Linked DNA regions of Homo sapiens. The protein of the gene in region 2 purifies or fractionates together with the protein of the main gene of each other region. This does not show direct contact. Each region holds a gene or a part of one and is shown on either strand. Other genes may lie near its edges. The genes, in order: ITFG1 and PCDHA11.

Region 1 (3,824 bases), on a different chromosome or scaffold from region 2:
CTGTTGCTTCTTTTGTTTGTTGTTGTTGTTATTGTTTTTTGCTTACCACTCCATCTTAAGAGACTGTTCTATGTCCGTGGCAGTGAAAAAAAATCATGCTACTGAGCTGTATAGAAGTACCGTACTTTATATAGTTTCCTACTCATGGTCCAGATTTTCTAGTTTTACTGTAAATTTCATCTATAGAAAACTAACACAAACATACAATACAGGCTCATTAAAAAAAATCTGAACCAGGACTATAACTGTTTCAATGATGTCATCTTATTCCAAGCATAAGGCTGTGATAAAGTTTATTTTCTTAAGCAGTTTGGTTCTGAAGCCCATTAATTTACCATAAAATGCATCTGCTGGTATGCTGGTAAACTGGCTCTGAGGTAGAGAGGGGTTCGGGAAGCCTTGTTTATGGTACTTGCCAATTTTCATGGAGTAGATTCTCCTACCATAACTGATTTCAGTGTGACTTCACTGAATAGAGATGCACAGAGTCAGGTCATGAAGTGGCATAAGCTGGTTTTGGCAATCAATACATTCGATCGAGATGTTTAATAAAGAATGATGAAGCTGGTATTTTCAGAGGGAATGTAACAAGCAGGGGACCCCACTGGTTACATATTCATAGATAAATTCACCATTTCTCTTTGGTTATTTTCTCATATTGATATTTGTCTAGCATATTTTTCCCTATGAAATTTAAATGTTAGTGAATACTTTTATCGCCTAATTTAAAAGGAATAGAATCAATCTAGGAATTTAAATAAAAATGAATAAAATTTAAGGATTTAAAGTTAAATGCTGTATTATGAAATGAATGTATTCTGTTAATAAGGATAAAAATACCTACCATTCGCTTACCACATGCTTGGCACTGTGTTAAGTATATTTCACCCTCAGATGCAGAAAGTGAGTCTTGGAGAGGACAAAGGACTGGCTCCTACTCTTGCAGTCAGCCAGCAATGGAGCTGAATCATTTTAGCCTACATCTATTTAACTCCAAAATTTGTGCCCAACCACTGTGGGATATATACTACTTCTCAAATAATTTATTTAAAAGATTAGTGCTTTATACAAAGATTTAGTATCCTGAAAGTTTGAATTTATAACTAGTAAACTGAAGAGCAGTTTATTTAAGCAGAATACATATAAATCCCTAATTAGTTAACCTCCTGTTTTTCTAATAGGATTGAATTTGTTCTTCATGAAAAATGTCTGGGACCTTTTATGTAAGTATGTTTAGTCATTTAAAGTTTGCCGTAAGCAAATTAAGGGATGGGCACTCATGGGAACACAGCAGGAATATGAGAGAGCTTAAAAGACATCACTGTATGTATAATTCAGAGTTAGCAGTGTCTTTACCAAATCGGTTCAAGCAAGTACATTACCTTCGAGGGACATTGTGAGGGTATGGAATGACAATTAGCTGGGAATTTGGAATGATTGCAGTCCACTCTTGTTTTCGTATAGACTGGAAGAAGAATTTAAGAACATTTAACATTCAGCACATTTAAAAAACACAATTATTATTCTAAATAAATAATGAAAAATCTAGCTACTTTGAGAAATTCAAATTCTAGGTATGGATTAAGCTATGTTTACCAATATTAAGCCAAAAATAAGGCTTTTGTGCCATCTGTTGGAAAATTTTCTCATCTTTTTGGGAAAGATTATATTTGTGTTTTATGAATTCATTCATTCAACAAATATTTATTAGACACTTACGTAGCAGGCACTGTTCAAAGGGCTATGTACAAATGCTGCTTGGAGCTAAAATTCAAATTGAGACTGACAATAAACAAAGCAAGTAAAATAATATGATTTTACATATTATATAAATAATACACATATGTATAATAATATTATTTATGTTACTAAAATATTTATGTACACGTTAGGTGGTGAAAAATGTTAGGATGAAAAAGCAGGATAGAGGGATAGGTGACGTTTATGGGAGAGGAGAGGGAAAAACTACACGGTATCTTAAAATCATGATGTGCTCTAAGTAAGATAAGCTTAGGTCACTACCAATAAATTTTTCTTTATTCTTTAAAGGGAATAAAAATATTTGGTTTATTTGAATTCAAATTCAATTAGGTTCAAATTATTTAATTTAAATACTTAAATAGTGAATATTAAAACATAGATTAATTGTAAACAAAATGAATTTTTACTCACTTTTTCTCCAGATGGACGGGGAATACCAACGTAGAGATGGTCAAGAAAATTTGCGCTCCGACCTAAACCAAGCACGTTGTATGGTAGTTGGAGAGCTAAATGTGCGGATTGGCTGAGTTGGCCAGCTAGAGTTATTCAATTAAAAAAAAATTAAAAACATCTCTGGAAACATTGCTCCCATCAAATATTAAAATGATAAAATGTTAAAAATTTAGGTACTGGAATGTATCACGTTTCAAAATGTGAAATGAAAGATACAGGTCATTAATATTAATGATTCACTTTTTTCTTTTTTTGAGACATGGTCTCACTCTGCCACCTAGGCTGCAGTGCAGTAGCACTGCACTGAGCCTTGACCTCTCAGGCTCAAGCTATCCTCCTTCCGAGCCTCCCAAGTAGCTGAGACCACAGGCATGTGCCACCAGGCTCGGCTAATTTTTAAATATTTGTGGAGACGGGGTCTTACTATGTTGCCCGGCCTTGAACTCCTGGGCTCAAGTGATCCCCCTGCCTCGGGCTCTCAAAATGCTGGGATTACAGGCGTGACCCACCGTGCTCAGCCAATGATTCACTTTTTAAAGAAAACAGCGTTACTGAGATATAATTCACATACCATACACATCACCCGTTTAAAGTGTACAGTTAAGTGGTTTTGAGTATATTCAAAGAATTGTTCAGCCATCACCACAATCTAATCTTAGAACATTTTTATCACTTGAGAAAGAAACTCCATACACATGAGAAGCCATGTCTGTTTCCAACCTGCACACTTCCAGCTGTATGTAATCACTAATCTGCTTTCTGACTCAATAGATTTGCCTATTCTGAAGATTTCATATAAATGCAATCATACAATGTGGTCTTTTGTGACTGGCTTCTTTCACTTAGCATGTTTTCAAGGTTCATCTATATGGTAGCATGTTTCCATACTTTATTACTGTTACTTGCCAAATAATACTCCACTTTGTTATATATACATTTTGTTTCATTAATTAATTTCATTAATTGATGGACATTTCAGTCATTTCCATTTTTGGTTACTATGAAAATACTGCTGTGAACATTCATATACAGGTTTATTTTTGTATTCACTCTTGTTTTCCTTTCTTTTGATTATGTAGCTAAGTGTTTAACATCATTAGGAACTATCGAACTGTTTCCAAAGTACCTGCACCATTTTATGTTCCCACCAGCAATGGATAATGGTTCAAATTTTTCCACATCCTCAATAACACTTTTTGTTGTGTCTTTTGTATTATAGCCATGCTCATGGTTGTGAAGTGGTATCTCATTATGGTTTTTACTTGCATTTCCCAAATGACTAATAGTTATTAGCCATGAAAATGGTCAATAAACACGTGAAAGAAGCTCAACTACACACACACACACACACACACACACACACACACACACATACACACACACACACACCAATTAAGTAAAGCATCTGGCCCTGTAGGCACATTTTCTGTTGTCTTTTTATTTTTTTAAAGAGATGTGTATTAGCCTACTTTCCTGTTTCTTTGTATGTCTTATAATTTTTGTTGAAAACTGGACTTTTAAGATAATATTGATAACTCTGGTATCGCTTAACCCCACCCAAGGGTTTGTTGTTTTGTTACTGTTTATTTGTTTAGTGACTTTTTTTTTTT
Region 2 (4,624 bases):
CATCTCATTTCTTTTAGGATTTGCTAACCAAATATTAAGAGAAATAGGACATTTATTGGTTAAAGAAGCCAGATTATTCATATGATTAAAAGACTGAAGATGTGTATCATTTGGTATTTTATGAACAGACATTGTTATCTAAAACAATATTCAAAACACTGGTTATTCATAAAACTTTCCCTTAAAAAATCCGTGAAAAAAAACTGGATTTTAAATAATTTCACATACACTTCCTGATAGGTGGAATCTGTAGAAAACTCACCTGTCCGGGGTGATTTGACCCTGGCTCCTGTCTTTCCCCTTCCTCCTCTTTATTCAGACCTAGAGGAAGACTGGGGCTGAAGGCCATGAGGTCCGTCTTAGGTGGGCCCTCCTCAGAGCACACCCTCTGCCGCCTCTGCTGCGAGTATGACCAGCTCCCCACCGCGCGGGAGCACACCAGCGTGGGCTTCCCCGGCGCGCACGCGCCCTCAGTGGGCGTTGCCGACCACCACAGCGCCGTATACAGCAGCAGCGTGAGTACCAGGAGGCTGGACACCACGCAGATGGCGATGATCAGGTACACGTTGACATCCACCAGCGCAGCCTCTGGGCTCGCGGCGCCCGCCAAAGTCCGGGAAGAGGCCTTTGGCGCCTGTCCGCTCTCCACCAACGACACCAGCACGGTGGCCGTGGCCGTCAGCGCCGGCTCACCGTGATCCTTCACCAGTACTAGAAGTCGGTGGCGCGGCGAGTCTGCCTCGTCCAGGGCACGCGTTGTGCTTATCTCGCCCGTGTACAGCCCCACGCGGAACGGGATGCGCGAGCCGCCCGCCGCCGGCTGCAATTCATATGAAAGCCACGCGTTGTAGCCTGAGTCCGCATCCACTGCGCGCACCTTCGCCACCACGTGGCCCGCACCCACCGACCGCGGTACTAGCTTGTTAACTGCGCCTCCCGCGCTGCCAGCCTGAGTCGCCAGCAGTGCCGGCGCGTTGTCGTTCTCGTCCAGCACGAACACCTGCAGCGTCACGTTGCTGCTCAGAGGCGGCACGCCCGCATCGCGCGCGCTCACCTGGAACTGTAGCAGCTCCAGCTCCTCGTGGTCCAACGGCTGCAGCGCGTACACCTTGCCGCTCTCCGCGTGCACCGACACGTAGCTCGACAGCGCGCGGTCGCCCAACCGCCGCTCCACCAGCGAGTAGGACACCAGCGCGTTCTCCTGCGCGTCCGCGTCCCGCGCCGACACTGTGAAGATGTGGCAGCCTGGTGGGTTGTTCTCCTTCACGAACACGGTGTACTCGGGCTGTGCGAACGCAGGCGCATTGTCGTTCACGTCGGCCACCTCCACGGATACCCTGGCCGTGGCCCACAGAGAAGGCGAACCCCCATCCCGCGCAGTCACCACCAGTTCATAGGCCCACACGTTCTCGCGGTCCAGGGCGCTGTCCAGCACCAACGAGTAGTAATTCTTGAAGGTGGACACCAGCTTGAAGGGAACGTGGGGCGTCAGCGAGCAGGTCACCTGTCCGTTGACACCTGAGTCACGGTCAGACACGCTGATCAGGGCAATGACCGTGCTGGGCTGAGCGTCCTCTCGTACTGGGAGGGACAAGGAAGTCACGGCGACTTCAGGAGAGTTATCGTTGGTGTCCAAGATTTCCACCCAGACTGTACAGTGACCTGCCATTGGGGGAGTCCCCTTATCTGTAGCCTGTACTTCAATTTTATAAAACTTGTTTTCTTCATAATCTAAAGTTCCATTGACCCTCACTTCTCCATTATTTTGATCTAGTGTAAATAAGTGTCTTCCATTGGGCTTAATTGACATTAAGGAGTATGTTACCTCTCCATTGACTCCTTCGTCTCGGTCTGTGGCGTTTAGTTTGAGCACAAGAGTTTCTTTAGCAGCATTTTCCATAAGGCTCACCTTATATTCTGATTTATCAAACTCTGGATCATTGTCGTTGACATCCAAGACTTGGACTAACAGCCGAACGGTGCCAGTAAGCTCTGGTTTTCCCCCGTCTGTAGCTGTTAGCAGCAAATTAAGTTCCGGAGTTTTCTCTCTATCCAGAGACTTCTTTAAAATAAGTGACAGTCTTTTAATCTGCTTACCATTTGTTGGTGAATCTAAAGAAAAATACTCATTTTTACTTAGCCTGTAGGTCAATAGAGCATTCTCTTCAATGTCAGCATCAGAAGCTCCCTCTAGTGGAAAACGCGAGTCCGATTGCTTAGATTCCGCAATCAGCAGCTTTTGTTCTCTGAGCGAGAACACCGGCGGGTTGTCGTTAATGTCCTTCACCTCCACGTTCACATGGAAAACCTGCAGCGGCCTGTCCACGATCACCTCCAGGTGGATGCTGCACTCCGCGCTCTGCCCGCACAGCTCCTCGCGGTCGATCCGAGAATTCACAAACAAAATGCCATTCTGCAGATTTACCTCCAGAAGGTCCCCATGTGTTTTGGACGCCACCCGGAACAGGCGCTGCACCAGCTCCGCCAGCTCCAGCCCCAGGTCCTGCGCGATGCGGCCCACGAAGGTGCCGTGTTTGGCCTCCTCCGAGACGGAGTAGTGGAGCTGGCCGCTCCCCACCTCCCAGAATTCGAGGAGGAGAAGCCAGAGCTGTAGTCGTGGGGTGCCCAATCCCCTTCTCTGAAAACCAAACATCGCATACGAAATTGGCTTCCAAAATAAGCTTCTTTACACTTACAGTACCAGATTCTTCAGTTTCAGGTTAAAAATCTCGTTGAATTCTTAAGAAGTTTCAAAGGATCCTTAAACGGTGGCATCCGGTATGATGGAGTTCCTTTGTATGGGAGTGCCTCACTGTTCAGACCAACCTTTAAATGAACTTTCCACCAAGTAAAGAGCGACACCTTGCGCCTAAAACTGTGAGTACTGTGCACTGCATTTACCACCACAGAATTTCACGTGTTTTGGGTTTCTTCCCCCAAATATTTCCAACGTGCTTATTTATGGAATATTCAGATTATAAGTCATATTGAAACTAAATATATATGGAAATGGCATTGTATTTCTCGATTAACATCAAATTTAAATTATTGTGTCTATGTTTGACTTAACATTATAACATTGTTCTTTTACTTATCTAAAATACTTATACACAGAGTGAGAGAGAAAGAGAATTCAGTTGTTAAGGTGGCCTCATGAAAAACTAGGGTTAAACATTTCCTGAAAGTGTTGTTCCTCATATAAAAATACTATCAAATTTGAATTGTTTTACTTTCAGTCTCCCTTGTTACTTTGGCTGCTAGGGAACTCAAAGAAAAAATTGAAGTTTTATAAAAGCAGCTCTTTAGTGTTTATGTTCCACATGATCTATTCTCATCTCTGTGGGCTTGCATTTTCATATCTATTTTCTATAGTTCTCATTCTTTACTGTTATTTACATTTAATTGCTTTCTGATTATAAGTGACTTTATATTCATTGCAGAACAATATGAAAAACAAATATATTCATATTCTCAAACTTGGTAGTTTTAAAAAAGAATCCACAAAGGAAAAGTCTATTGATCTAGATGAGTTTTTATTTGACATATATTATTTCTAATGTAAGCCATAGTAGCATAATATGAGATATCAAAATTTAGCACTTTATGTAACAGAATCAATGATATGACAGAAATAGGCTTTTCAACTATAAAATAAATTTTATTATCATTTTATAAAATAAATAAAATCACCCTGAACATCTTTGTGCCATATTGGTATTTCCAAGTCACCAACATTGGTTTCCTTAATCTAATTCAGTTATATTCATGAAAATAGTTTGTTTCTTGTTGAAAGAATTTTGGGTTTGGGAGCAGAAGTTCATGGAAAACAAGGGAAGTGATTTTTAATTATACCTTCTGTAAGTACCTGATATTGTGCTTAAAACATAGAAAATTAATCAAACAATTCAACTAAATGGTAAATTACCTTAGTGCTTGTGGAAATGGAATTTCATAGAAAATGCTAAGTAAAATACAGGAATTGCTTATGAGAGTTTTCTTTGCCTGAAGTTGTAACTTGCTTGAATTTTCTTTGTCTTTTCATATACCCTTAGGATTTAGGAGGAAAAAAAGAAGATGCAACAAAATTTTAGAGTAGAAAGTGATTTAGAATAAATATCACTCTAGCTTAAATATTTTGTTCTATAGTTTTGATGGTTTATCTCCAATCTAAAAATACTGCAAGGGCATATGAAAAAGTTATCATATGTGTATGCTAATATTTTATATATATATTCAACTATTAATTTGAGATTTTGTTCTACTTTTTTCATATTTACTCTTTTCCCAATGTTGTCATAACACTAGAACTCTAATTCAGGTAAATGCAAAATTCTGTATTAAAAAATTAAAGGAGACATATCAACTTTTATAACCGTTAATTCCATTACGCATCTGTAAAATAATCAATCATAGTAGCCTCTAATCAAAACATAACATTAGACCAGATGACAGTATATTCAACATGATATTTGAAGCACATCAGGTTTATTTTGAACAAAAGGAAACAACAGATCCTCAATCACCTTATTATGGGAATTGGGGATGAAGATGTTACATGGAATGTGGAGTCTTGCGAGGTAGGGAAATGAACCTTAGAAGGTTTACTCTGGAAAAATGATAATAT

What was found.
Region 1: the proteins of PCDHA11 (region 2) and ITFG1 purify together in Homo sapiens (affinity purification with mass spectrometry; one large-scale study listed by BioGRID and IntAct). This does not show direct contact.

What each region holds. Positions count from the first base shown.
Region 1 is NC_000016.10:47,160,368-47,164,191, forward strand, and holds part of ITFG1 (T-cell immunomodulatory protein isoform 1 precursor), read right to left. Parts: intron 2,381-3,824; exon of another isoform or gene 2,298-2,380; coding exon 2,173-2,297; intron 1,466-2,172; coding exon 1,383-1,465; intron 1,224-1,382; exon of another isoform or gene 1,182-1,223; intron 1-1,181. UniProt on the Homo sapiens protein: Modulator of T-cell function. Has a protective effect in graft versus host disease model.
Region 2 is NC_000005.10:140,867,133-140,871,756, reverse strand, and holds the start of PCDHA11 (protocadherin alpha-11 isoform 1 precursor), read right to left. Parts: upstream 2,801-4,624; 5' UTR 2,654-2,800; coding exon 263-2,653; coding exon of another isoform or gene 221-262; exon of another isoform or gene 157-220; intron 1-156. UniProt on the Homo sapiens protein: Potential calcium-dependent cell-adhesion protein. May be involved in the establishment and maintenance of specific neuronal connections in the brain.